4 linked regions of the Homo sapiens genome follow. The protein of the gene in region 2 interacts with the protein of the main gene of each other region in a pairwise test. Each region holds a gene or a part of one and is shown on either strand. Other genes may lie near its edges. The genes, in order: ARMC5, COL8A1, BPIFA1 and CCN3.

Region 1 (7,612 bases), on a different chromosome or scaffold from region 2:
CATTGCCCAGTGCAGGCCGAATCAGGCCCTGGGCACACAGGTTGGCGAGGATCAGAATGGTTCCCTCGCGTACTGCCCGCTTGGGGTGGGAAGCCAGGCTGACGAGTGGGCCCAATCCCCCACCCAGACTTAGCTGCTCAGCACAGGCCCGGGAGCAGCCTCGGCTGAGTTCCAGGAGGGCACGGACGAGGGCTAAGGTCAGTGCAGCATCTGGGGCAGTGGCCAGGAGCTCGGCCAGCGGACGCACTGCTCCCTGCTGTGCCAAGGCCAGGCGGTGCTGGGGTGAGTCTGCCAGGTTACGGAGGGCACGCACCACGCTCTGTAGGCACTGCGAGTCCTGGCAGGCTGTCAGGCTCTCCACAAGCAGGGGAACAGCACCTGAGGGCAGGAAAGGGGAGCACAGAGGGTGAACAAGGACAGACACTCAAGCCTTTCTTCTGCCCCAAGCCCTAGCAGACCCCAACCTCACAGCCTCTTACCAGCACAGTGGATGTCCCCACAGCTCTCAGGTTCCATGGCTAAGTTCCCCAGGGCACGGGCCGTTCGGTTCTGGATGCTGTCTGTCTTCATGCACTGAAGAATGGTCACTGCAACGACAGTTTGGGCTTGTGAGGGTTCTACCCCTTACTGTCTCTCACATCAATAACCTGGAGAATGTGGCCTGAGAGGGCCTGGAAGGCTTTCAGAAGAGGCTAATGGTCGGCAGGGCACCGTGGCTCAAGCCTGTAATCCTAGCACTTTGGGGGACCAAGGTGGGTGGGTCACTTGAGGTCAGGAGTTCAAGACCAGCCTGGCCAACGGGGCCAAACCCCATCTCTACTAAAAATACAAAAATTATCTGGGCATGGTGGTACACGCCTGTAATCCCAGCTACCCGGGAGGCTGTGGCAGGAGAATTGCTTGAACCCAGGAGGCAGAGGTTGCAGTAAGCTGAGATCGTGTCACTGCACTCCAGCCTGGATGACAGAGCAAGACTCCATCTCAAAAAAATAAAAAGAAAGAGGCTAACACTCGGGCTGGGTCTGGAGGGGTACACAGGAAGGTATTTGCCAGAAGCACGGTGGATGGGGGTGTGAGAAGGCATTTCAGGTTTGGAAGCAGCCTTTCCAAAGGCCCAGAGGTAAGATACAGTGTCTGTGAAAGGCTTCAAATGTCAGGCCAAGGGGTCAGGACTTGAATGTGAAGGCACTGGGGGCCACACAAGGGTTTTATGAAGGGGAGTGACACGATACAATCTGACATCCATAGGGAGAATGCATTATGGGGAAAGAATAGGAAGGGGGGAGTCAAAAGGCTGTCATAATAGTCCAAGCATGAAAAGACAATAGCTTGAACCAACCCAGCTACTGGCATCACACAGCACAGAGATACCAGTCTCTGGGCACACAATGGAAGTAGGAAGAGAGAGAAGCAGATAAATTCAGAAGATATTTAAGATGAAAAATAGTAGCTGAATGATGGGGGTTATTTAATAACCAAAGCTCTTGTCAAACATATATGGTCCAGATACATTTTATGTAAATTTTAAATATATTAATGCTTCCCTTTATCCGAAAAGTTAAGATGTCATCAAAACTAGCATAATTTCGTGGAAGGCAGGTAGTGACATGTAAACTGCTTTCACACATTGCCACTAGGAGGCACCAATTTAGCTGGTAAACAGAAAAGCTTATGTTTTGCTAGGATTTGTTCTTACTGTGCTGGTTTTAATTATTTTTATTTATTTTTTCCTGCTTCCTAAGCGACTACTGATTTGTTTGGTTTTCTAAGATACGAGGTCTTGTTACGTTGCCCAGGCTGGAATGCAGTGGCTATTCACAGGCAGTCATTGTTCACTGCAGCCTCAACCTCCTAGGCTCAAGGGATCCTCCCGCCTCAGCCTCCCAAATAGCTGGAACTACAGGCGCGTACCACTGCACCCAGCTTATGCTAGTTTTTAATAACTTGAAATACGTATCATGCTTAGAATATTTGCATATTCGTGCCATATTTGTACTTCGTTTTCTCCCCACTCTGATTTTTTTAGGTAGCTATTATTGCCCCATTTTACAAGGAATCCTAGCCTCGGAGGGGTTAGGTGACTTTTGCAGATCTCCCTTTCTGAACCACTACACCTTCCAGCTCATCAGTGGGGCTTCAGAACCTTGCACAGGGCCGGACACATAGTTGGGCACTGAATGTCTGCTATGAACATCATAACTGGACGGTAAGAATCATCTGAAAAAATCACCAAATAACTCTTTGGCCTCCGCTAGTCCAGCTTCGAAAGAAGTCCTCAACAACCAATTCCTAGATAATGGCTACAATTATCTGGTCTGGGAGGGCTCTCTCTCATCTATAGAGAGTGCAGTGACGTCACGGGGCACAACAGATTGAGAAACAGGAGCGATGCGCCATCACAAAGCACGTTATTCCGGGATAGGACACAAAGAACTCCAGACTGCCCGGGTCTAGAGAGCAAGGGAGTTGCAAACCTAATCTTTCTAGGAAACGGGGGCGGAGCACTTACCCAAAGGGAGTATGCCTCCGAGTCTGCGCACTTCGGTCCGGCACGCCCCTTCCGTACAGCAATCGGCTAGGATGCTGAGCGCCAAGTCCAGCGTCTTGCGCAGGCGCACTGGCGGCGTAGGACTAGACGACGACACAGCGGAGGGGGCGGGGCCCGACGCGGGGGCGGGGCTAGAAGCTCCCGACGCGGCCGACGAGGGGGCGGAGCCGGGGCCTGCCTGGGACGGGGCGGAACCCGCTGCAGCCGCTCGCCGTAGCAGCGCGAGTAGGGGGCGGAGCCCGCCGCGTGCCCGGAAGCGCTCGATTCCCCCCGCTGCCTTGATGTGGCGCGTGCGGAGGGCTAGGAGCGCGCGGCTCAGGGGTGTCTCGTTGGTCGCTGGGTCCTTTTCCCCACCCAGAGCCTCCCCGGCCGCCGCCGCGAGCTGCGCGAGGCAGAACGAGAGCGAGTCCGTGAGGGTTGGCTTCGCAGCCGCCATCTTGGCTCGGGCCTCAGACTCCGCCCCGCTTCTCGCCGCTGATCCCAGGGAGCGGAACTGGAAGACAGGGAAATCGTCGGGCACCGCCTCGCTGACGCTGTTTAGCGCCACCGCAGTGATGCAAGTCGGAAGTTGTAGTTCTCGACCCCGGAAGTCTGTCCTTGCACACGAGGCGCGGCAGTACCTTAATCGCAGCGCATCCTGGGACGTGCGGGCGGTGCATGAGGGAGATGTGGTCCGCGTCGAGCTTCTCACGCCTACCTCGGGAAGCGCTGGAAACTCTTCCAGGGCCCTCCAGGTGGGCCAGGGCCTCCGAACAGCCCAGAAGTCCGACCACGGAGCCTTCGTGCCGTGCCCCGCCCCCGGCGTGCACTCGGCGGGGACCGCCTTTTCTCCTCTAGGCTCGCTTCGCTGCCCCCCAGCGGTGGTGCGGCCCGGCCTTGGGACGGACTCCGAGAACCCCGAGCCGGGCCGAAAGTGCGGGGTCCTGACCGCGCCGCAGACGGGGAGCCCTCGCTCGGTCAGAGGAAGAAGAGGGTTAAACCTACCGAGAACGTTCGCTGCCGCTTCCTAGAGTGACGGGCTTGTGGAATTTTCCGTTTCCGGAGCTGGACCCCGGTGTCCCGAGTGTCCTCCGCTCTGGACGTGCTCGTGAGCTCAGGAGCTGGCATCTAGGAAACGGGGAGTTCTTCACTCGCAGCGCAGTCGGCCGCGCCAGAAGAGGCGAGGGAGAATCCGGACGGGGCGGGGCGGCGGGGGAGCGGGACATTCGCGTCCCGGGGAGCCCCCAGGTCACCCCTGGATTGCGAGGTGGCTCCGCCTGAGCAGCCCTTCCTGGTGTGGTCGGGGCAGCTGCCCGCCCGGAAAATGGTCAGGCTCTAGCCCTGGGGAGGAAGAAGCCTTTGCCAAGAGCAACCGTCTACAAGCCCCAAAACCTGCGAGTGCCGGAAATGTGGACTGACCACAGCCTGCCTCCCCGGCTTCATTCACCACCAAGGCAGCCCCTCTGGTGACAAGCCTTACCGTTGTCCGGGTTATGGCAGAAGCTTCCGATGTGGCTCTGATCTGGTTAAGCACCACTGGGTACACACCGGTGAAAAGCCGTACTCCTGCCCCGAGTGTGACCATCGCTTCGGCCCTATGCCTGTGCCTAGTGTGGTAAGACTTTCAGCGTCAGCTCCAACCTGATCCAGCACCAGCGCGCTCACACCGCTAAAAGCCTTACCGCTGAGGGGACTGCGGCAAGAGTCTCAGCCTTGGCTCCACCCTGTTGCAGCACCTGCGCTCCACATGGGTGAGAAGGCCTCTAAGTGCCTTGTTTGTAGTAAGAGTTTTGTGCACAGTTGGAATCTGCTGCGGCACCAGCACAGTCACAAAGTCCGGAAACCTGATGCTTGGTGGTGAGTGTGGCCAGACCTTCGGCCACAGCTCCCACCTGCCCATCCACTAGGCGGCCCACAGCAGCACCCCTGCGTCTGCCTGCAGTGTGGCAGGGCCCTAGCGCAAAGCTCCAACCTGGGCCAGCACCAGCGGACGCACTAGGGCGGCAGCCTCTGCAAATAGCCCTGGCTTCAATTTTAGCTGAAACTTCAGCTCTGACTTTGGTTCGGACTTCAAGGAAATGGAAGGAACCAGGATCTCTAAGCAGACCCCCTTCTGCTCCCTTAGGGCTGTTGATTTTAGAGCTAATGATGGGATTCGGTTGGGGCGAGGGGGTCTCCACATCTTTTTGCCCAACCCTTTGCTAAGTCAAGGAACCCCAGTCTGGGCTGGGCATGGTGGCTCATGCCTGTAATCCCAGCACTTTGGGAGGCCAAGGTTAGCGGATCACTGGAGGCCAGGAGTTCGAGACCAGCCTGGCCAACATATTGAAACCCTGTCTCTACTAAAAAAAAAATGCTAGGCGTGTTGGCTCTCGCCTGTAATCCCAGCTACTCGGGAGGCTGAGGCAGGAGACTCACTTGAACCCCGGGAGGCGGAGGCTGCAGTGAGCGAAGATCGTGCCACTGCACTCCAGCCTGGGCGACAGAGAGTGTCTCAAAAAAATAACAAATTTAAAAATTGTTTTTAACAAAGGAGCCCCAGTCTGGAAGAATCAGAACACTAGATCTGTGATCACTGCCTTCAAAGAGCCCAGTCAGCTGAGAGGGCTTAGGTTTGTTCTTTGAAGTTACAAAGACAGAACGTCGACCAGCTGAAGGGAGAGTTTTGGAATGGCGGGAGCTATCCAGCGTGGACCCAGCTGCCTGCAGATCTGGCAGTAGCTGACACAGTCCCTTCACAGGCCTAGGGAGTGATGGGGTTAATCACACCTAGAACAACAGCTACCTCTTCCCAGAGGAATGGGACCAGAAATCAGGCAAGCCCCTGTGAGGAGTTCCATGGCAGCGCGCAGGCGGGGCATTCCTAACCTCCAGAGGGAACCATGAGGGATCCTGTGTTCTGGCAGATGGGCCAGAGAATTTGAACTTGGGACCATTGTGTGAGCCCTGGGTGTGTGAGCCCTTCAAAAGTCCTCTCAGCACGTGAGAACTATCATTATGGATGATGCTAGGGTGGTGGGGGCCCCAGAACAGACCTGTATGTTGAGTTCAGGGGTTGCTTTGTTGCATTTCTGGGCAGGGGCAAGAGGCCCAGGGTTTGTCATCTGCCCCTTCCCCTGCCTTATCCCCTTCCCTTCCAAGTTCCCCAGGCTCCTTTTCTGCCAGTCTGTCAAGAGAGGGAAGAGTGGCGAAGAGTCCTTTGTGCCTGGACATTGGGGACTGAACATGGCCCTTTTGCCTGGGCATTGCCCAAACATATATTTCTACTGGCATAACTTTGTGTATGTGAGAGCCAGGGGTAGGCTTCCCAAAGCACCTGCCTGTGCTCAGAGTAGACACCAAGCTCTGAGGCCCTTCCCTTCCCTGCTGGGGGAGGGAGTTGTCTGTTTCAAGGACCTAATGTCCACCCCTTGTGGGACAGTCCTACCATCAGTCCAGGCATCTGGTCTGCTGCCCCCAAATTTTACCATCTTTTTTTTTTTTTTTTTTTTTTTTTTTTGAGACGGAGTCTCACTCTGTTGCCCAGGCTGGAGTGCAGTGGCACGATCTCAGCTCACTGCAACCTCCGCCTCCTGGGTTAAAGTGATTCTCCTGCCTCAGCCTCCCGAGTAGCTGGGACCACAGGCTTGCGCCACGATGCCAGCCAGTGTTTGTATTTTTAGTAGAGGGTTTCACCAACCCTCTACTAAAGACCAGCCTCTAGTTGGTCAGGCTGGTCTCGAACTCCTGACCTCAAGTGATCCATCCGCCTCAGCCCCCCAAAGTGCTAGGATTACAGGCATGAGCCACCACGCCCGGTAATTTTGCCATCTTTTATCAGGCTTTCTGTGTCGAGGACGCTACCCACATAGAGTAGAACCTAAAGGGAAGGGATGTGAAGTGACCTCACCCTCAGCTTCTAGCTCATGGTGTCAAGGCTTGTGTGATCTTAGACACGTCTGCCTCTTCTGAGCCTGTTTCTTCATCTGTAAAACAGGGATGGGAGGTTGTGGTAAAGATTCCACAGCAACACTGCACACGCATGAAGTACCTGGGCCAGGGATGACTCGGCAGACCTCAGTTTCCCTCTGCCTCCTGCCTAGAGCTGTTAGCAAGCATCCATCATGCGGCTCACACAAGAGCTCCCCCCGGAGGTTACAGAAATGAAGGCAGCAGCCCCAGTCCTTGGGTAGCCTGTTTCCCCTTGAAGGAAACAGACTCAATATCAGCAACACAGAGTGAATGACGCCAGGGTGGCGAACGGGCCTTTCCTGGAGCAAATGCGGGAGGCTTCATGGAGATGACGTGTAATGAACAGCACTCATCTCAGGCTGGGAGCAGCACATGCCCCCGGCAGGGAGTCAGTGATGAGGTATGGGGTTCTTGACATCTTCCTCACCCAGGACCCTTCAGAGAGTACGAGCCAGGGTTTGAGTGAAGGGCCTGAGCCCAGCACATGCATGGTAGGCACTCAAAGAATAATTGTCATGATCAGGTCCTTTTTACACTGCTTACTAGTGGCCTTTAAGCCTCAGTTTCCTCACAGTTGCCTTGAGTGAGTGTCAAGTGTTGTAGACCTCTGCAAAATTCATAACTGCTTAAGAATATTAGGTATGGGTAGAGTAGGCTTGGAAGGAGGATTGGTTTGCAGAATCCCTTTCAGAGACCTGTAATCTAATTTCTCACATTAGGGCTAATACTCCTGGGACCCCTCTCCTCTCCAATTGCATAAAACAGGTTCTGACCAGAACAGCGAGGCAGGCCAGACCTCAGAAGCAGAGGGACGGGCTTAATCTAACAGGAGTTTATCCCATGTCCTGCATCCACTGTACCCTGTGCTGGGTTTAGAAGTAGCTTCACTGTCCAAGCTTGTGACCCAGTGCCCAAGCCCGAGATGGGAAACACATTTGTTTTGGCTGTGTGTGTGTGTGTGTGTGTGTGTGTGTGTGTGTGTGTGTGTTTTCAAACAAGCCAAGATTTTTACTTTTTGAGTTCCATTTTGTTGCCCAGGCTGGTCTCTGAAACTTCCAGGCTCAAGCAATCCCCCTGCCTCAGCCTCCCAAAATGCTGGAATTACAGGTGTGAGCTACCATGCCCATTTATTTA
Region 2 (7,613 bases):
ACTCTCCATGCACTGCTCTTTACAAAGCCAGCAGGAGCTGTGAGGCAGTCATCTGTGGGGTCACCTGCATCAGTCAGCTCTACCCTATGGGCCAACAGGAAAACAGTGACTCACAAAATCCAACGGTCCTTTGGAATGCGTAAGAGGTGTGCCTTTCTTCTGTGCTATAAAGCGTTTTCCATTTTTGTAAATAAAACCCCATTTTAAATGTCCTAGGAGAGCTGGCAATTTTAAGTGCCTTACGGACTACGATCATATTTGGTCATGCTTAGCATGGGCTAAGACTGATTGACTGATGAGTCATTTGATAGATGGAGAGCAAATTTCTGTACACCGTATTTCAAATTGTCAGATTTACTTCAAGTGAGCACACCTGTCTGTGACTTTTGCTTAGGCCAAAGCCACATTCATTTGCATTTTAAAGCTCTAAGGAGTGAAAGGAAGAATCAGAGCTTGAAATCTGGCATGGGCAGCACAAACAAATAGTTAAAAATTAACTATTTGAGAACATAGATGTGAATGTGCAGTTTTTAAAGCCAGATCACACTGTTTTCCAATCCAGAAATCCTTGAAAACTCAAGGATCTCATGGATCAGGTATATTATTTAGGGATAATGTAAAGCTACAGCAGGTGAGAAAGACACTGGGCTCCTCGGACACACAGAGAAGACATCACTCTTTATGTGAATCCCATATGTCACCCTGGCCACACCGTGAGAGGGTCCTGCCTTCCTACCCCCTTCCTACAACCATACAGGACACTCCAGGGAAAACTGGGCTAGAACCACTACTGTTTCTGCCACCTTGCTCAGGCCTCCAAGTCTGCAGGATGCAGACACTCTGTTTTCTCTATTTCTAAGTATGCTATCAGTCTGAGATGCACAGGCAAGCATTTATCTGCAAAGCCACAATAAAGACCCTATATTCAAAGAAAAATGAAATCTTGAAAATATGCCACTTTCACCATGCCATTCTATTGCTCAAAAGTCTTCATTGATTCTGCATTGCCTACAGAATATAGTTTATACTTCAGACTACTGAGGTGACCTCATCCCTCCTCATCCCTCCTCTCCATTTCTCAGCCTCATTGTTCTACCACATGGACCTTTCTATACAGTCATGCTGGCCAATTCACCACCTTCTGAATATTCCTGTGATTTCCCTGGTTGCACACATATCCTCCCTTGCCTGGAATGTACTACTGTCCATCACTCGTCTATTCAAATGCTACTTTCCATGGCTCAGCTCAAATGCCACCTCCTCCCTGAAGTCTCTTTACTAAAATTCAACTATCAGGATTTCATGCTTTTCTTCCTCTGTGAGAAAAGATGTCATATTTTCCTCTGCTTTGAATACCTCACATTGTCTGATATCCATTCTTAATAAATATTTGTTAACTGATTAATTCTAAATAAACTCCAAAAAAGGGTTACATTTGCAAAGCTCTCAAAAGTAAGGTAATGATCTGTAGCTGTTATAGCCACACAATGGAAACTTCAGAGCATCTAGTATGTTGTCATTGGATTCCTTTCCTTCCACAGAAGACCAAACTAGGTCATTTCAAACCTCAGTCACCTTCAGAGAGATTCTAGGAAGGGCACACTAAGAGTCAGCAAAGAGACGACATTCCTGGATTCCTGACTTGTTGTCCAGATCTGCTACTGAATCAGATTCAGGTAAGTGTGAATGGGAGAAATGAACTAATTATTAGTGCCATCCAAAAAAATGAAAGCAGTGCTTTTGTTATGTTGGCTGGTTTGAAAGGAAGAAAGAATTAAAAATAAGAAGAGAAATTCAGCCTACAGCCATCAATTGTCTTTTCTTCAAATGTGCTTTTCTTGCCTTTCTGGTATTTTTTTTTTTTCATACGTATGTGATGGAACTGGAATGTTTGAGAAGAATTAACTTAGGATAGAAAAGATGATTTGTTGTAATCTGATAAGGGTATTTACTAACATACTTTATCACCCAGCTTCTCCTCTAAAAGTCCCATTTTGTTTCCCCAGAACACATTTCTTTGCTAAATTAAAAAGTTCCAAAAGTGGTATTGTGCTTGTAAAATCACATCTGATTTCAGCGTTATGTCCAAGAATAGATAATGCAGTCCTATTTCTAGGTCTAGTAACAAGTGTTACTCGTTTGACAGACTTCACTCAGTAGATTTGGCCACATCCTCAAAAGACATACTATTTGGGAAGAGGAAAACTGAGTTATGGAGGGTAAGAAGAGAGTAAAACCAAACAGCAAACGGGCAGAAAGTTGATGTGAAAGTTTTAGCTTTCTAAGCATTCATTAAACTAACAAATGCTGACCATTCTCTATTGTCAGTCCTCAATATTGCTGTTTATTCAATTAGCGAGACTATACATATTTATTGAGCACTTATTTTTTACTAGCTAGTAAGCCACTAGTTATAACTTTGTGCAGCCAAAAAATTATTGAATATAATTTGAATAGGGAACATAGAGATAAAAAATTATAAAAAGGCGAATAATCAATAATGCAAAACATCGTGAGTAAATTTGAAAACTCTGGTGTCAAATTTGTGTTTACGATAAAAATTTTAAATTTTTTATTTCATATATGATTGTTCTTGCCTCATATCCCGGGCACATGGGAGTTTATTTCGTTGACTCCCAGACGTAACCAATTGAGAATAAGCTTAGTTACAAAGGAAGTAATTGAGGCTTTGAGCTCTTGAAGCTAACAGATGGAAATACGTATGTAAAAACCTAAGTGCTGTGTAAACTCGGCACATATGGACGTAGGTATTATTATTATCCAAATGGCACTACTGGGTATTTTCTTAATAGATTCTTTTAAAATGCTTTTTTATAGTTGTGGGCCTTTTTTAGACGAATAGTTCTTAAGAAGAGGAGGGGATTTTGTCCCTCAGCGACATTTGGCTAAATCTAGAGACATTTTTTATTTTCACAGCTGGGTGGCGAGTGCGGAGTGGGTACTGCTACTGGCATCTGGTGGGTAGAGGCCACGGACACTGCTTAACATTCTACAGTGCACAGGAGAGGTCCCTACAACAGAGAAATATTCTCCCGAAAGTTTCAGTAGTGCTAAGTTTGAGTAATTCTGCTCTTCACCATCAAGTTTCCTTCTCTTGGAGCCTGCTACCAGCCAATGACATCAGGATCTAACCTGAGACGAACCTAGGTGTTCTATACGGCAGCCTGGTGTACTGAAGAGTGCCTAAGGTTTGCAAGCTCGCTAGCTGTGGCTCCCCCTCTCGCTAGCTTGAGCTAGTTATTTAAACCCTTAGAGATGCCTTTCTTTAAATTAAAAAAAAAATAAATAAATCTGCACAATATGAATCATACCTACCTCATAAGGTTGCGGTGAACACTGAATGAAGTACATATATACATATTCAGTACAAGTTCGTTCCTTTATTATTTCCAGCCTACCCATCCCTCCCCCCTCCCATTCCCGCCTTTTCCCCCTCCCGGTACTGTATCTCCCACCCCAAGTCTCAGGTTCTCTTTTAAAATGCTTTAATTCCTTTGGTGGCAAAAATCAGGCTTGGGCTAGGAAGTGAGTCACCACTCAGCAGCGAAAGGAGCTTGTTTTTCTTTCTCTGAATGCATTTCTTAGTAATTTCAGACTGATCCTTTAGCCACTTGTTGGTTGAATCCTCTCTTAATGTTTAAGACACACTGAGAAAGAACTGTGGCACCAAGACGTTTTCCGATTGTTAGGAATGAGAGTGTTTTAAATACCGAAAATAACCAGAGGGCAGAGAGCTCTGAAATCCTACGTTACATAAGCAGATGCTGGAAGACCCAGGCTGGTTCTGAGGTTCCTGTCTCCACAAGCAAGTCCACGCGAATCCTCCCCGTTGCTGGATTTACTTTAATGCTGCCGAAGTCTCAAAAGGGGCCTCTGGATGCTCAGAGGACAGGCAGCGCAGGAACTTCCTTGTCAAATAAGCCTTGCCTGGAGGGAGAGGGATGGGGCGATTTTCACCCGCGGGCGGTGGGACGGGGCTGAGGGCTGGGGGCTGCCTGGCTCCAGGCCATGTCAGTGCCTCCAGCTCCAGGTCCGGGTCCACCCTGAACTTTGGCTCTGCTGCCCGGACGCCCAGCTTCACCTCCCTTGCCTCGCTTAGAAACCCTTCAGTTCTCCCGGACCGCTATGTAGCTTTTCAAATTCCCAAATTCACAGAAAACACCTTCAAAAGTCACAATCACCCACAACTCCCTCTGCCAAAAAATGTCATGCAAAAACGGAAAATACTCCGATTCCCCTTTCCTCCCAGACACTCTCTCTCTCTCTGTCTCTGCTATTCATTTTCTCCCCCACCTTTCCCCATCTGTGGTCAAGATCCCTTTCACTATTTCTAGTTCCCTCTCTTTTTTCCCTTCTCCCTCTCTCTCCCTTTTCCACTCCTTCCTCCGTTGTGACCGCGCTCCCCCTCCCCCCGCCCCGTCGTCTCTCCTCCGCCTTGCGGGCTCCAGTCTCTGCCCGCCCCTCCCCAGAGAAGAGTGTCCAGCTCCTCCAGAGGCTGCCCGCCCGCCGCTCCTTCCCTGCCCACCTACTATGAGGAGCAGCTCCTCCCACCTGCCCATAAAAGCCAAGTGCATGTTACCAGCAGCGGATCACAGCCCTTCCCCGATCCTCTCCGTGGGAGCCAGCGAGCCTCTCTCCCTGATCTTACGTGCTCAAGGTAAGACAGCACTTCTGCAGGCAGCTCACCTACCAGGGGTTGCTATGGGGGAATAAGTCACCCTCTGGCCAACGCGTTTGCTGTTTGGTTAGAGCTGATTCTTACGGATGCGCGATCCGCTGCTCCTTTAACTAGCAACTGGTTTGAAAACAAACTTCTGTTTGAATGGTAAAATAAAAGCTCCTTCAGGGAAGAAACAGCAGCATAAATATTGCGAAACCTTTCTCTTTTTAAATCACTTTTTCTCCTGTTGCTGACTGTTGCTTAGGTTAAAATGTATCTGTTTGGGGTGTTGTACTGACGTTTTTCACTGTACATATTTCACACATCAGTGGGGGCAAGGAAAACGTTGTCCCATTGTCAAAAATGTACTTTAAAAGAACACAGTTAACTTCCTAAAAATAGCACAGTCAAAAGGTCTGCTAACAATTTTGTGATGTTTTCCAAACCCCCAAGACAGCTTCTGTGAGTCCTTTAAAAAAATATCTTTCCAGGTTTTAGCGCTTGGAAAAAAATGATGTGAACGGGTGCCCTTTGCACGGGGACAGTAAGTAATCAGGTGGCTGGTAGATAGGAAGGAACAAATCCAAATTCACAAGCCAGGGTAGAATGTGCTCTCTCACCAGGCTATCTTTTCACGACATCCTAAAATGAGAATTACGATGGAACTAAGAAAGTGTATAAAAGAACTTCATGAATTTCTGTACACACACCTAAACATAAAGTGTTTCAATATGTTTCACAGTAAGAGAATAATACAGGCCAGATTATACAATACTTCTGTGCACACCAGATGGTTGTAAAGAAAGATCAGCGAGAAAGGCTTTGGAAGTTTTAATCCTTCTTTCCACCTTTTTTCCCCCGCATTTAGTAAATCACAACCTACCTGACTGGCATCCAATTATCAGAGATATTCAGTGTTTAAGCTACCCTCTTTAAAAGAAAATGATCTCTTCTTATTCCTAAGGTAGAATAAATGTGCACCTGTGAAAGGAAAAACATACTCCACAGCCACTTCTGTAAAACCAGACACTTGGTCCATGAAGTTTGCCATCAAATTCTGTGGGTTGTGTGGGATGAAACTCTCTCAAGTGGGAGAAAAACCCTCTTCAAATGTTTCCTCTGGGGAATTGCTCAAGACCACTTAGAGAAGGCAAACCAAAAGTACCAGTCAGGAAACCAAACCACTCTTTTAGCCCTTAAGGTTCTTAAAGTAAGAAGAGAAATGTTTCACTTTTTTATTTTTTTGTTTGTTTATATTATCTCATGTGGAAAGAAAAAACTCACCGAAGCTGTATGAAATTCTCCCCTATTAAAGAAACAAGACTCATTAGAAATTTAACTTAGGTCTTCCAAACCATTTCTCCTTAGCTTTTGCATATCAAAAGTAATAAAAATATTTAAAAGTTCTGCTTGAGATGGAGAGGATTCAATGCTGTTACTCAAATGCAAGAGTTATATATAAAGCTTCTGTCACGTTAAATTTTTCTTCATTGGAAAAAAATATTGCAAGAAGTGCAGTTTCCTTTAAGCAAATTATATAAAATTACTATTGGCCAAGATAGTATGTGACCTGAGCATATTAACATACCTTTTATCTCATGCCACAATGCAGACTGCTTGCTTTATATCTGATGCACATAGGTAATCAACCATGACAAGAGTACAGGTATGGGACAAGGCCAGACCAAGTATGTGGCACATTCAAGTTAATTCTTCTTTTATGGTAGTGCCTGACTCACACCCATTATCACAAGGATGAAAATACGCTGCTTCATTCACCAGATCCCCTTGAGGGAAGTTATCTTTTCTTGGGGTGGAGGGGGAAATGCTCCCAGTTTAAATGAGCTTCCAGTTATTCCTAAGTTTGGGGATAAAAGTATTCTCCAAGGGTTTACTTCTGCTTTCTCTGGCAATTAATCCACCGGACCAGCTATGGACCGTTAAACAGTAACTGCCTTCCCTATGTCCCATCAAGTTCAAGCCCCTAAATAACTGAGTGAGATCATCTTAGATTGCTCATGATCTAAGTTTCCCAGGAGCAAAGCTATCCTTTCTCCATAGGGTACATACCAAGCAAGATGACACTGCTCTTCTTAAGCTTTTAGAAAAATCAGTGTCGAAGTTTCATGTAGTCGCCCCCAAATCTCCCCTTCTGCATGGGATGTGGATACTTCACGTGAGTCTCCTCTTTTTGCCATTATATAGCTGCCTCTTGATCAAGTCCATGACTATACCCAACCAATGCCATTGAGGCAGACTTGGGAGGACTTCTTAATGTTTCTCAGAAAAGATAAGATGAGAAGCTGCCGCTTTCACTAGAGACACAAGAAGGGAGCTCTACTGATTTTGAGGGCTTGCTGATCCTACAGAAATGTGCATTTTAGATGTTCTACTACTGTCAAAATTATAAAATGATATCCTTTTCATGATCAGAAAACATATGCCACTTTATTCCTATTTATGAAATAAAAATCAAGGAGAAGAGGATTGGGGTGAAAAGGGACTTGAAAGAGAAGCTGGAGGAATCACAGAAGTGCCCTAGGAGAAAAGCAAGATTAGGAGCTCTGTTACGAAACGCAACTTCTCCCAACCCTCATTTATGTGAACATGAGGGGATGGGGAAGAGCAAAAATCCATGTCTGCTCTTGTCTTTTTATTTGTTTGTTGTTTTTTAATCAATGAGAGTATAAGATCCATCTCTACTATGCCCTTCTTCTTAGCCCTCCTTCTTTAGCAGAAAAGAACAGCTTGGTTCTAATGATGAAAATGATTTCAGGTTTGCCCCATATTTAAAAACCCACAGTAATTTGCTAGTCATAATTCTAAAAGCTATACTATGAGTTAAAATAAAAAACTCCTTAAAACATGTTTTTAACTAACAGATGGGTCACGTCAACAAAACCAACCCTAAGTCTCCTGAAAAGTGTAATGT
Region 3 (6,954 bases), on a different chromosome or scaffold from region 2:
CTCTGGGAATGCTCTGGAGCTTCCAAGGCCATCTGAAGACCCTCTGCAACTCAGTCCCCACGCTGACCTTTCTCCTGGGGAGGAGATCCTGCATCCCATTCTCACATTCTGGAGAACAGACCTTGCATAGGTCAGAGCCCTTTGAAAAATCAAACCAATTCTGCCCTTTAGAAATGGATCTTTTTTTTTTTTTTTTTTTTGAGACAGAGCCTCACTCTGTCACCCAGACTGGAATGCAGCGGCATGATCTTGGCTCACTGCAACCTCCGCCTCCCAGGCTCAAGCAGTTCTCCTGCCTCAGCCTACCAAGTAGCTGGGTTTACAGGTGCGCACCACTAATGCCCAGCTAATTTTTGTATTTTTAGTAGAGATGGGATTTCACCATGTTGGCCAGGCTGGTCTTGAACTCCCGACCTCAAATGATCCACCTGCCTGGGCCTCCCAAAGTGCTGAGATTACAGATGTGAGCCACCACACCCGGCCAGAAATGGATCTCTTGATTGACAAAACAACCTGAGCAAAGGCTCCCAAACACAATTGCAACCTGAGAAGCAGGAAGGAAAGGCACCACCTACAGTTTCTGAGAAACACATGGAGAGGGTATTGACATCACCAGAGTGGGGAAAACCTCTTGAAATGTTCGTGGTGTGTCCTTCCACTTGTTTCCTGGTGCCCTGAGACCTTTCCCCTGTTCAGGGCAGGGAGCATGCAGTCCCTGTGGCCACAAGGAAGGGCAGTTTCAACAGAAGCAGAAACAAGGCTCTTGACTTTCAAGAGCCTGGGTTTTTGATAAAGTGGTAGTGACAGAGAACAAACAGGTGGTTGCCAGCAGATGAAGGCAGGGTGTGGCTGTAAAGGGACCCATGAGAGTGCCTTTGGGGGGATGGAACTGTTCTTTACCCTGATTATGATGGTGGCTGACTATACATGTGGTAAGACTCAAAGGACCATACCACTAAAAGAAGTCAATTTTACTGTAAGTTTTTTTGTTTTTATAGTCTTGGCTTTTGACTTGTTAAACTCAGGGCATAGGAGAGTCTGAGAACAGCATACACACAATGAAGTTGAAGCAAATCTTCCTGCCCACAAAACTAGAAAATGCCCTATGTTGGGTTGGTGAAGTGTGAGGGTCCAGGAGAACTGGAAGGAGCATAGTTCTGGTGGGTTCTGATGGTGCCTCCGTCCCTTGCTGCTCCCAGGCAGACCTGAGCATGGGATGAAGGGAACAGAATCCCAGGCACATGTATGGGATCCAGGGACAGAGGGCGTCTGTGTCCACACTCCCTCCCAGAGCCAGAAGAGGGCATGAGACCCCAGGGAGAGAAGGGTAAAGGGAGGGTCTAGGTGGATCCAGGCAGGAGGGCTTGGGCAGCCCCTCACAGTCCTGTATCAGGCCCAAGGAACTGGCGAACAGCAGAACAATTCTGTGTCTTACAAACGAGTTGAAAGTAAATGCTAAATCCAAAGGGACCTTTCACCAGGAGGGAAGTACAGTGTCTCTGCAATCTAGGGGCAGATGGCACATGGCTGTCTCCTATATTGCCAGCCAAAAATAGGGACAGGCAGCCTCCTTGGTACAAACAAAGCCCCTAGCACAGACATGAAACCCCAGGGGGAAATTGGGACATTTCTGTTCCTGAGCAAAATGGCATTTGAAATGGTAAAGTATAGATAAATCAGAAAGATGTGTGGACGCCTGAGTTTATGAACTGTGATTCATACCAGCTCCCCAGACATCATCTCCCCATAGCCCTGTGAGGCAGATTTTATGCTCCCCATTTTACAGGTGAGGAAACTGAATGAAGTTCAGGGAACTGGACTGACTTGCCCAGGGTCGTAGGATTTGAACCAGGGCTGTTTGAGCCCAAATTCACCCACTTTCTGCTGCAATACAGACACAGCCTCCCGGCCTCAAACCAGAGGGTGTAAGCTTTCATTAACTGGCTGCACAAACTCTACTAATTCCTTGCCTTATCTGCCTCAGTTTCCCCACAAGGATAGTAGCAACCTGACCCAACCCACAAGAGTTATACGATGGGACCACTGTGAGGATGATTGCCATGTACAAGATGTGGGCAGAGTCCAGCAAGTACCTTGAATGGATAATTAAGTTCAAAGCCATGGCCCCAAACCCTTGGGGGCACCACCCAGACTCTGGAGAGCAGTGGAGCAGGCCAGTGAAGGCCTAGTGTGAGGGAGGCAGTGTGGCCCACTGATTAGCAGGGACTCAGACAGACACAGAGGGTGGCAGGGTCAATTGACTCCAACACTCACTCGCTGTGTGTCCCCAGGAAGCAGTCACCCTTTCTGATCCTCAGCCTCCTCATCCAATGTATGAGAGACAACAATACCAACCACTCCTGAAGAAGATGAGGTTCAAATATGGAGAGCACCTGGCATGCAGTCAGTGCTTAATAAAAGCACATTTATTCCTTCTCTCTCCACTTTTGCTTATAAGGTGTTAGGTTTTGCAGGGTAAGAGCTGCGCTCACTGGTCCAGGACCTTGGCCTTCCTGTGTCTTCACTTTTTCATCTGCTGAACAGACTCCAAGGGCCCCAGTGGTGGGGATAAATAAATGCCTGATTACTCCATTTAGGGAAAGGTAGAAGAAAGGGTAGGATAGAGACCAGGATGCCAAAGGATCCCTCAGGCCTGGGAACCTGGAAAGACTTTTCCAGGACCTAAAAGAGAAGCGGCGGGGCACTGTGGCTCACGCCTGTAATCCCAGCACTTTGGGAGGCTGAGATAGGTGGATCACCTGAGGTCAGGAGTTCGAGGACAGCCTGGCCAACATGGTGAAACCCCATCTCTACTAAAAATACAAAAACTTTGCCAGGCATGGTGGCGCTCGCCTGTAGTCCCAGCTGCTCAGGAGGCTGAGGCAGGAGAATCACTTGAACCCGGGAGGTGGAGGTTGTCATGAGCTGAGATCACACCACTGCACTCTAGCCTGGGCGACAGAGTAAGACTGTCTCAAAAAATAAAATAAAATAAAAATTAAGTGAAAATTTAAAAAATAAAAAGGGACGCATGAAAGTGTAAAGTTCACAGGTGGGGAAATCAAAATGGCCAGCAAGTGTTGGGAGGCACCTTCATCTCTCAGTGCAGTGATTCGGGGAAAGGACCTGAATGTGGATGTCTCACCCCAGGCAAGCACTGCATCTCTGGACAACTTGCCTCACACTCAGCCTCAGTTTCCCCCTTATAGAATAGGAGTACAGGGTTGTGAGGATTTTGTGAGATGCTGCCTGTGAACACCATGGCAGGCCAGGCATACAGCAGGAGCTCGGCCAGTGTCTGCTGTTGGCGTTGTTTTTGTTGTTTTCATTCTCCAGTCAGTTGCATTCTAACTCTGCTGCATCCTCTCTGGGTCTTTCAGCACTTGTCCCCACTGGATCTCAGTTTCCTCCTCTATAAAAGAGGAGGAGTCACCTCTCCCTCTCAGGGTTCTTGTGAGGACAGAGAGCTCCTGACGTGCAATAGGGGCTCTGAAAACAGGAGACCCTTGCCCTGGAATGGAGACGCACCCCAGATGTAGGATGCAGTGTGACTCTTTTGACATTTTAGGAGAAAGAATCCTCCAACTGGAGCAAAAAAATTAGAGCAGGAGAGGAAAGGGGCCAAGAGATGAGACTGAGGTCCCTTCCTGGGCTCTGTCTGGCTGCTCCTTTCAATGCTCCAAGCTACCTTGGGAGCGTGGGTCCCCAACCTTGGCTCCGCTCAGGAAACCATAAAGTCTTGAGTAACATCCCATCTCAGGTTTTTCTCTGTTTATCTTGTTGACCAAATAGCTTAACTGTCTCACCTGCTAATGTGATTGGCAATTATTTACTTTGGAGAGCCCTGAAAGACACTGTCAGATTGCAGAATTCTCAATTATCTAGAAACCCATCACCCAACACATGCTTCCTCGTCCCCATACTATAAAAGAGGCTGACTCCTCGGCAGAAGTGAGTGGGGGAGAGAGAGGAGACCAGGACAGCTGCTGAGACCTCTAAGAAGTCCAGGTAAGAGCCATCCATTCTGTGGCCCCTCTGCTACCCTTAACGGCAGGGATCTCAGGCTCCTGCCCTGTGGGGCAGTGAGTGATCTTGATCACTCACTGGGGGCTGTGCAAGAGAAACAGACCTGGCCAATGTCAGGGATGTGGGGATGGCCATTTGCTCTGCTGTCCTAAGAGACCAGTAACATTGATATAGAAATGGGCACTATTAATGCCGTAAATGAAAGCCTCTAAGGCATAAGTTTTAGCTTGAGGTTACCAATGTGGATACAGATGATCCAAAAACCTCCTAAAATTCTTCACCCAATTTTATACATTTTGATGCATTTTTTCTGAGACTAGGATCTTTAGCTTCCATTGGATTCATAAAGGGTCTGTTGCCCAAAAGAGATTCAGAGGCTGTGGTCAAAGTTACCTCCCTAAGAAGGGCACAACTGGCTCTTTGGACCAAAGACCTTTCATTTCCAGCCTTCCACCACAAGGATGGAGCTTTAGCTGAGTCAGCCAATAGATGGAATTTTGCACAAAGTCACCAGTTGTCTCCAAATTGTAGGTACTAGTGCTGGCTCTGGACAACTCTGCTGGCTGCCAAATAGACCTGTGAGAGGTCTGCAAGCCAAACCTCAGGGGTTGACCGGAATTCCATCCAGGGCAGCTTGAAGGAGAAGAGAAAGGTGTCAAAATGATAGAATGCATGTTTGTGTGTTGGGTGAGGGGAGGGTTGGGAGACCTGCCTTCAACCACAGCTCTGCCATCAATTTATTGTATGACCTTGGGAAAGTCACTACCCCTCTTTGGTCTCCTGGTTCTTCTCATGCAATGAAGACTTTGATGGCCCCAGGAATTCCCCAACAAAGGTCTACATGAGATGGTGGCTGTGGCCATGCGACCCCTGTATTGTGTGACTTTCAAGGGCATCCACCAACCATCATGGCCTGAGCTCAGGCCAAAGGACTGAACAGGGATGATCTAAAACAGTTCAATTCTTCAGCACTTGCACGTTTAACCCTTCTCATTTGCTTTGTCTGAAGAGCAGCAATGATTCAAACCATTGAAGCAAGCCCGATTGGAGAATAAATCTGATGGTTACTTAATTTAACCGAGGGTTCACCTGGCTCTAGCTTCTAATCCTCTGTCCACCGTGTACTTGTGACCTTGGGGAAAGTTACCCACACTCGGTAGTACACAAGTGGGTTTCAAGAAGGGATGGGAGTATATTTGAAACTCCCAACTGCAAACTCACTTGACCTCTGTGAGCCTTGGTTTCTCCTACTGGAAAATCAGACAAGTGAACTGTGGGCAAGATGGAGTGAGGTGAGGCTGGGATTCTTGGCAAGAAGGAAAAAAACCCTCTTCTTTGGAATGTGGTGGAGTGGGGCTGTCTCCTTTTTAGGCCCCTGATCAGTGGTCCTCACCTGTGCAATGCAGGTAACAGGTGCCCATGTCTTAGGGTTGTGATGAAGATGAAATTGTGTAAAGTGGTCAGCCTGTTGCCTGGCAAAGAGAAATTGTTCAGCAGTATTAGCTATTACTAGTGACCCCCTGGTGTTCTGGGGAGCAAACAACCCCACCCCCCAGGTGTCAGGGCAGGTGGTGGATAAATTCCTCTCTGATACCCATGCCATGTTGGACTTGTCATTCTGGCCACAGATACTAAGAGCAAAGATGTTTCAAACTGGGGGCCTCATTGTCTTCTACGGGCTGTTAGCCCAGACCATGGCCCAGTTTGGAGGCCTGCCCGTGCCCCTGGACCAGACCCTGCCCTTGAATGTGAATCCAGCCCTGCCCTTGAGTCCCACAGGTCTTGCAGGAAGCTTGACAAATGGTGAGTTTTCAGGGGTGTATGTGTGCATGTGTGTGTGTGTGTGTGTGTGTGTGTGTGTGTGTGTGTGTGTGTGTGTGTGTCCAACCCTGCAAAGTGGGGAGGGACAGGGCTGGATGGGGGAGGGGGCCTGAGGATCTGGAATTGTCAGATCTGACCCCCAGAGACCCTTACACCCATTTCCAGCCCTCAGCAATGGCCTGCTGTCTGGGGGCCTGTTGGGCATTCTGGAAAACCTTCCGCTCCTGGACATCCTGAAGCCTGGAGGAGGTACTTCTGGTGGCCTCCTTGGGGGACTGCTTGGAAAAGTGACGTCAGTGATTCCTGGCCTGAACAACATCATTGAGTGAGTTGTCCTAAAATAGAGCTTTGATCTCCACCAGGGAACCCCAGGTGAAGATCTGCCAGCCCCAGGCAGTGACCCTGAAGCAGCGACCCTGAAGCAGCGAGGGAGCGGCCTGAAGATGGAGCCAGGACTCAGTTCTGAGACCCATCTCCAGTTTGGCAGGGACACCCGTCCTCCCCAAACCAGCAATGCCCTCAGTTCTAGGCATGTCCTGAGGCCCCAGCATCATCTATAATCCTCACCACAACCCTTTGAGGTCGATTTAATAATCTCCAGTTTGCAAATGGGAAAACCAAAGCACAGAGGTGCCTGTGTTCACGCTGCTAGAGTGATGCCAAGTGAGTAAGGCTCTCACTCTACTATCCTAACTCCAAAGCCAAGGCTCTTCCCACTACACTGTGGTCATTTTGTTCTCTGCACCTGTGAAATCCCTTAGAACACAGACGGCCTTTGATGTTAGCGAGAGTATAACCTGCCCACCTTGATGATATCAATGTGATGAAAAACAGTGTGATGTCCATGGAAAGGTCTAACGTGGAGTTTCCCATGAGACACCCAAGAGCTCGCAAAGCAAAAAGCAAGAATGGAAGCTTGATGCCAGTGAGCCGGCAGAGCCTGGTTCCTGGATAGGACTGGATCAAAGCCATTTCCAAAATCCTACCCACCCAGGGTCTCACTCCCTGACTTGGAGACAGACAGACTTCTTGACTTTGATTTTCAAATGTACTTGTTGGATGACCTGGGACAGGACACCCTGTCTCTCTGTGCTTGGTTTCTCCATC
Region 4 (7,629 bases), on a different chromosome or scaffold from region 2:
CCATCCTTTTAGTGCCAAGCAAGACCCAGAGAAGTTTCATGTCACAGGCTGATGGGTGGTGGCTGATAGGACCAATTTAGCTGCTGCTGAAGAGCAAACAGCCTCCAGTTTGTTTCTTATCTCATCTTATGCAGAGCAATGAAAAGTGGCAAAACTTAAAGTGGAGTTTGCAGTATCTCAAAAGGTCCAAGAACTGACCACTTGCCTGACCCTGAGGTGGATGTTGGGGATGTTACTGTAAATACGACATGCTCTGTGTCCTCAAGGACTCCCAGGCAGGACAGGGAGGCAGTCACCAAAACAGACAAGTACAGTCACATCTTACATAACAATATTTTGGTCACCTACGGACGGCATGTACAATGGTGGTCCCATAAGACTGTAATGGAGCTGAAAAATTCCTATAGCCTAGTGACATAGTAGCTGTCATGACATTGTAGCACACTCATGTGTCTATGGTAATGCTAGTGTAAGCAAACTTACTGCACTTTCAGGCATATAAAAGTATAGCACATATAATTATGTATAGTCCATGTTTGATGATGATAATAAGTGACTATGTCACTGGTTTATGTATTTACTATACTTTTCATCATTATTTTAGAGCATACTTCTACTCATAAAAAAAAGTTAACTATAAAACAGTCTCAGGCAGATCCTTCAGAAAGTATTTCAGAAGAAGACATTGTTATCTGAGGAGATGACAGCTCCATGTGTGTTATTACCCCTGACAACCTTCCAGTGGGACAGGATGTGGAGTGGAAGACAGTGACACTGATGATCCTGACCTTGTGTAGACCTAGGCTAATATGTATGTTTGTGTGTTATTTTTCACAAAAAAAAAAAAAATAAAAATATTAAAACTAGAAAAAAGCTTATAGAGGCCAGGCACAGTGGCTCATGCCTGTAATCCCAGCACTTTGGGAGGCCGAGGCAGGTGGATCACGAGGTGAAGAGATTGAGACCACCCTGGCCAATATGGTGAAACACTGTCTCTACTAAAAATACAAAAAATTAGCTGGGCGTGGTTGTGTGTGCCTATAGTCCCAGCTACTTGGGAGGCTGAGGCAGGAGAATTGCTTGAACCAGGGAGGCAGAGGTTGCAGTGAGCCAAGATTGCACCACTGTACTCCAGCCTGGTGACAGAGAGGGACTCCATCTCAAAAAAAAAAAAAAAAAAAAAAAGCCTGTAGAATAAGGATATAAAGAAAATATTTTTGTACATCTGTACAATGTATCTGTGTTTTAAGGTAGGTGTTATTACAAAAGGGTCGAAAAGTTAAAAAAATTAAAAGTTTATACAGTAAAAAAGTTACAGTAAGCTAAAGTTAATTTATCATTGAAAAAGGAAATTTTTGAATAAATTTAGCTTAGCCTAAGTGTAGTGTTTATAAAGGCTATAGTAGTGTGCAGTTATGTCCAAGGCCTTAACATTCACCCACCACTGACTCACTGACACCCACTGCAAGCTCCATTCACGGTAAGTGCCCTACACAGGTGGACAATTTTTTATCTTTTATACCATATTTTTACTGCACCTTTTCTAAGTTTAGATATGTTTAAATCACAAATACTTACCATTGTATTACAGTTGCCTACAGTATTCAGTGCAGTATATTCTGTACTGTTTGTACGTTTGTAGCCTAGGAGTAATAGACTATATCATACAGCCTAGGTGTGTAGTAGGCTACACCATCCGCATCTGTGTAACTACACTCTATGATGTTCACACAACAATGAAATCACCCAAGGACACATTTCTCCAACAATATCCCCATCATTAAATGGTGTGACTATAATGATTATCCAGTGAGTTATGAGATAAAAGAGATAAGCTCGGCATCCCAGGCCTGCACTGCGGATAACATCTATCCCGGCATGAAGGATTTCAGAGACTATGTCCTGGAGGCAGTGAAGCATGACATGACATGATTATCATCAGATGGTATCACTTTCAATTTACAATTGTTTTAAGATGAAGATCCTCATCCTAGAGCATTTATAGCAGATGATGGAGTGGATGTGTATTGTTTTGCTCACCAAGCTTGCTTTCTTTTTAAGGAACAGTCCTTTCTTCCCAAGAGAACTGCTCTTTCTCTCCATTCCAACCATGAGGTTCTAACTAATCCCCATACTTCACCTTCCTTGTCCCCATTGATTAGTCCAGGGTGAACCCATCCAATTTAATTCCTGGAACTTTTAAAGTTGGGCCTAAGAGACAGGGACATTCCTTCTGTGGTGATAAGGTCATAAAGTAAGAAGATTGGAAGGATCATTTTTCCCTTATGTGGAAGTAATCCTGTTGGCCCTCCTCTCTCTAGATCCCAATTGCCTCTGAGGACTCCCTGTACCATTCCTGTGCTGTCACTATGTGAAACATCACAGCATCCTTCCAGTAAAGTCCTCTTTTCGCAAAAACTAGTTCAAGTTTGGTTTCCATCTCTTGCAATCAAAACTGAATAGCAATTTTACACTTGCAGTGACTTCTTGACATGTTAATCCTTGTCTTAAAGTTACATTTTCCCTGTCACCACTCCCACCCCACTCTTTCCAAGAAGAGCTAGCCCAATCTCCATGTTGCCAATTTCTCCTTGTTCTATCTGAGTCTATTCATGCTTGGAACACTTGGCCGATGCTCTTTGCCTCCCCATTAGCAGTGCTTCTAGTTGCTCCATTTCAAAGTACATTAAAATGCTGTCTACCAAGAGCCACCACCAGAGAATCCTACTGAGTGGGTCAAGAGTGGGGCTCAGGAATCTGTATTTTTAACAAAATACATGCTGGTTGATTCGATCTGCAGCCAGATGGAGGCATCATTAGGCCAAATGGCTTACAAAACCTATCAGTTTTTTTGTTTTTTGTTTTATCTTTTTCTTAAACTTTTATTTCAAGTTCAGGGGTAAATGTGCAGGTTTGTTTACACAGGTAAATGTGTGTCATGGACATTTGTTGTGCAGATTATTTCATCGCCCAGGTATTAAGCCTGGTACCCATTAGTTATTTTTCCCGATCTTCTCCCTGCTCCCACCCTCCACCCTCCAAAGCCTATCAATTTGAAGAGTAGGTAAATGTCCTACTCAAGAGTGCAAATGAACTGTTTCATCTCTAGTTAAGTTTGAGTACTACTCAGTCTCATTTACCTCAAAGAAAGCAGAACTATTAGAGGCTTGGAAGTGTGTCATAGTGGTTTCAGGCTGCCGAGAGAATTATCTAGAAGGGGCTTGAGGTGACCTCATCATCTGCGGGTGTTGCAGAGGCAGACCTGGCCCCTTCCGCAAGCTGCCTTTGATTTCCTTCATGCTGGGGACAGATGAGGTAGAGGCCATTTGTTTCTTTTTAAACTCTAGAATTACATCACAGGCCTGTATAATTTTCCTTAAAAAGTGTTTTTTGTTTTTTTCCAAAGCAACTATCCTCAAAAGAGCTGGGCATAGTTCTCCTAGGGGCAGCACCAGTGTTGAAGTGTGGGGGGAAACTGTTCTAAATCCTTCAAACAATGTCACCTTTGGAGCAGTAAAACTGCTCCCTTTTTCCCATGAGAGATGACAAGCATGCCCCAGCAATCATTTCTTGAAAGCGGATGCCCGGTGAGAGAAGGATTTGATTTGCTGAAGGGTCAGCCAAGTTAAGCCAGTTTCTTCCTCATTTCTTCCCTGGCTGGAGGTTTTGATGGTGGTGATGGTGGTTGAACTGAACCCACTTAGAAAACTGTCAAAGGTTTCTGGACTCTCAGGTGTGCCGTCTCACATTTGGTCTGCTACAGCAGGTGCTTCAAGGCTTTCTTCTGCCAAGATTTCTTTGTTTTATTTTATGATGTTTTCTTTATGTGTGTGTGTGTGTGTGTGTGTGTGTGTGTGTGTGTGTGTTTTACTTTTATTTCTAACAAACCTGTGGACCTTGGGGTTTAAGACTGAGTGAAGCTAGAAGGATTAGAGTCAAAAGAATTTTGCCATTTGGCCAATAGCATTCCCCACCTCCTGACATATCGATTTTTTTTCTAGATTCCCTTCCCCCTGCCACTCCCCTCCCCCCAACACACACACACTTTTCTCTTTCTCCTCTTTCTCTCCTTTCCTCCCTTGCTTCTCTCCCCTCCCTCTCAACACATTCAATGAGTGCCCTAAACGGTGACAAACTTGCATGTGCTTCCCTCATGACTAAACCCCTGGGCCTTCTGCCAATCCCCTGCAGATGGCCCCAAACTGCAGGCATCCCGTAAGGGGACCCCACGCTTGCAGCCCTGGTTGGAACGGTCAGGGTGGAGGAGGATGGTGGGGAGTGGTGGTGTCTTCGTCCTGGGAGAAGGCGAAGCAACTTCCAGGAGGAAACGGGCGTTTCCTTCCCACGCGCTCGAGCGAGCCCTGGGTCCTGGCCTCGGAACTCCACCCAGCCCCTCCCCACCCTCTGGGAAAAGCCAGTCGCCACACACAGGCACACGCAGGCCCCGGCGCCGCGCCCTAAGGAGAGCAGCACCCACAGCCAATTGCCATGGCAACCCCGGGGTTCGTTCCACTTCCCCACCCAGCCGATCTCCCCCCTCCTCCCTGCACTGCAGCCAACCGGCTTGTGCGCGTCCCAGGAGCGCGCTATAAAACCTGTGCTGGGCGTGATCGGCAAGCACCGGACCAGGGGGAAGGCGAGCAGTGCCAATCTACAGCGAAGAAAGTCTCGTTTGGTAAAAGCGAGAGGGGAAAGCCTGAGCATGCAGAGTGTGCAGAGCACGAGCTTTTGTCTCCGAAAGCAGTGCCTTTGCCTGACCTTCCTGCTTCTCCATCTCCTGGGACAGGTAAGTGGCACACCCTTAAGATGCCCCCAAGTTACTTTGCCCGCCTTGGTGGCCCCCATTTGGTCACCGGGCTCACTGCGTCTTCTGTCCCAGCTGAGTGGTTTCTCCTTGTCTCGCCTGCCTTCAGGTCGCTGCGACTCAGCGCTGCCCTCCCCAGTGCCCGGGCCGGTGCCCTGCGACGCCGCCGACCTGCGCCCCCGGGGTGCGCGCGGTGCTGGACGGCTGCTCATGCTGTCTGGTGTGTGCCCGCCAGCGTGGCGAGAGCTGCTCAGATCTGGAGCCATGCGACGAGAGCAGTGGCCTCTACTGTGATCGCAGCGCGGACCCCAGCAACCAGACTGGCATCTGCACGGGTAATCCTGCTCCCTCTGCTGTTTGACCTCTTCTCCTGCAGCTAAGTGAAGCTGCTTCCTCCCTTCTCTTTTGTATTCCCCTTCCCAGAGGGCGATAAGCAAATAATAATAATGCAATAAATGACATGTATAGAGCACTTACTGTGTGTCAGGCATGGTTTGGGGAGCACTTGGGGCTTTGGGGAGCGCCAGAGCCAGAAAGGAAACCTGCCCTGGGGGTGAAAGGCATTCCTCACTTGGCTTCCTAGACAAGAATCTAAGCAAAGGGGGAGCCACGCAGAGTTAAGGGCCAGTGAAGTCATTTCCTTCGGACACTTCTAGGGGGCCACTTGGGGCTGATGGAAGCTCGGGTTTACTCACACGCTCACAGTTTCCCAAACTGCAGTTGGGGAAAACCCAGCAGGTTTGTTTTCACACCTGTAATTGTCCCATTTGAACCAAAGCAGCTGCTAGTCTCCTGGGATAACTATGTAACCCTTTTCTGGCTGCAAGTAAAATAAAATGCAGGCAACTAGCCAATCCAGGCTTCTAAAACGTAATCAGTCGGGGATCAATTTTTCACATGATACAACATTGTAGTTGAAGATTGTCCCTTCCTTTCTGGACAGGAGGGCTTTTACTTTTTTCTCTAAGCTACTGATGATTTTATTATGCTTGAGTGTCAAGGAATCTTAATGCCCTTCCCAATTTGATCAGCTAACCTGTTGGAAAACATAAAGTACACTTTTTCTCTTTTTAAGTCTAAGCTGCTGGAGTAGGAAACTCTAAGGAGGTTCTCGCAAAATGACTGAACATTGGGAAAAATGGCCAGGGGACCTTGGGGACATCACTTCACAGTTGCACACCTCTTTCCTCATCCATAAAATGAGTGGCAAGACTAGATGATCTTGAAGGTTTCTTCTTGCTCTGAGAGGCCTCCATGAGGACATCACTCTACAGTAGATACATGAGAAACCAGATCGCCTGAACTAGAAAAGGACTTGGGTTTTGGAACATGCCCTCCAAATCTTACATAGCTTCTTCACTGTATTGTGTTCTTGTTTTTCCTCTTCCTCTTTGCTTTTCACTTTGCTTCCCCAATATTCTAGCGGTAGAGGGAGATAACTGTGTGTTCGATGGGGTCATCTACCGCAGTGGAGAGAAATTTCAGCCAAGCTGCAAATTCCAGTGCACCTGCAGAGATGGGCAGATTGGCTGTGTGCCCCGCTGTCAGCTGGATGTGCTACTGCCTGAGCCTAACTGCCCAGCTCCAAGAAAAGTTGAGGTGCCTGGAGAGTGCTGTGAAAAGTGGATCTGTGGCCCAGATGAGGAGGATTCACTGGGAGGCCTTACCCTTGCAGGTGAGAAACTCAATATACCTAGGGCTGGTCATAGTAGAGGGTAAATACAAACATGAAGAATTTGCAATCTCTTGGATTTGAAAAGAGAAACTGGCCTCAGTTTCTGGTCATTCAGTTGTGGGTTTCAGGTTGCCCACTGAGATCAAACACATTTGTAGACATTAGATCAAACATATTTATAAACTCAAACTAAGTTATAGAAGGTTGCTGCAATTTCTCCTGAAGAGGACCTCCCAAATTCACTCTTTTGTCTTATTTTTGTCTTATTGGATGACTACTACTTGTATTTTAATCCATCCCACTTGACCCTCATTAGCACTACAAAGACAAAATTTTAAATTCTCTTTCTTTTCTGGATTCTGTACACTACCTAGGCCGTCTCATGATTAACCTCCTTAAAGAAGGCTACTCATCCCTGCACAGGTGTCACTGAAAAGTGTCATCTTTCTAGATGCTGTAGTAAGGCTCAGATGGCACTTCAGGACCTTTTTTTATTCTTATTTTTGTTTTCTCTTATCAATGAAATAGTTTAAATAAAAAATCTCAAGAGACAATAGAGGATTATTTTAGAAGCCATTAATTAGCCAGATTACTTATATTAGCAGTATCCGGAATTGTATACTATTTCTGAGGGCAGACATTATCAGCCATGCCAGAAATAAATAAATAGATAAATAAATTCAGTTCTGTGTCCTGGGAGCATGGGTGTTTAGTAGGTACAGAGTCGAATGAGACCCAGTTTCTAATAATGGCTGAAAAGGACCACTTTCCAATCCTCACATTGTACCTAATATGGCTGTCTTTATTTATACATCCCATAGCTTACAGGCCAGAAGCCACCCTAGGAGTAGAAGTCTCTGACTCAAGTGTCAACTGCATTGAACAGACCACAGAGTGGACAGCATGCTCCAAGAGCTGTGGTATGGGGTTCTCCACCCGGGTCACCAATAGGAACCGTCAATGTGAGATGCTGAAACAGACTCGGCTCTGCATGGTGCGGCCCTGTGAACAAGAGCCAGAGCAGCCAACAGATAAGGTAGGAGCCTGGAGGAAACCTCCCATCCTGAAGGTAATGGCCTTGTGTCCTTGGAGCCTGGGCTTCAGAAAGTCACTGTGTCACTCTGTGACGGAGAGAGCAGCTATAGCGGGG

The links.
Region 1: the proteins of COL8A1 (region 2) and ARMC5 interact in binary tests that used the Homo sapiens proteins (3 or more experiments, as listed by UniProt).
Region 3: the proteins of COL8A1 (region 2) and BPIFA1 interact in binary tests that used the Homo sapiens proteins (3 or more experiments, as listed by UniProt).
Region 4: the proteins of COL8A1 (region 2) and CCN3 interact in binary tests that used the Homo sapiens proteins (3 or more experiments, as listed by UniProt).

Annotation. Positions count from the first base shown.
Region 1 is NC_000016.10:31,454,897-31,462,508, reverse strand, and holds the start of ARMC5 (armadillo repeat-containing protein 5), read right to left. Parts: upstream 2,985-7,612; coding exon 2,510-2,984; intron 588-2,509; coding exon 480-587; intron 379-479; coding exon 1-378.
Region 2 is NC_000003.12:99,633,987-99,641,599, forward strand, and holds the start of COL8A1 (collagen alpha-1(VIII) chain precursor), read left to right. Parts: upstream 1-4,607; 5' UTR 4,608-4,678; exon of another isoform or gene 4,679-4,694; intron 4,695-7,613. UniProt on the Homo sapiens protein: Macromolecular component of the subendothelium. Major component of the Descemet's membrane (basement membrane) of corneal endothelial cells. Also a component of the endothelia of blood vessels.
Region 3 is NC_000020.11:33,232,043-33,238,996, forward strand, and holds the start of BPIFA1 (BPI fold-containing family A member 1 precursor), read left to right. Parts: upstream 1-3,953; 5' UTR 3,954-4,008; intron 4,009-5,654; 5' UTR 5,655-5,669; coding exon 5,670-5,829; intron 5,830-6,012; coding exon 6,013-6,172; intron 6,173-6,954.
Region 4 is NC_000008.11:119,411,831-119,419,459, forward strand, and holds the start of CCN3 (CCN family member 3 precursor), read left to right. Parts: upstream 1-4,615; 5' UTR 4,616-4,702; coding exon 4,703-4,786; intron 4,787-4,913; coding exon 4,914-5,139; intron 5,140-6,227; coding exon 6,228-6,479; intron 6,480-7,300; coding exon 7,301-7,515; intron 7,516-7,629. UniProt on the Homo sapiens protein: Immediate-early protein playing a role in various cellular processes including proliferation, adhesion, migration, differentiation and survival. Acts by binding to integrins or membrane receptors such as NOTCH1.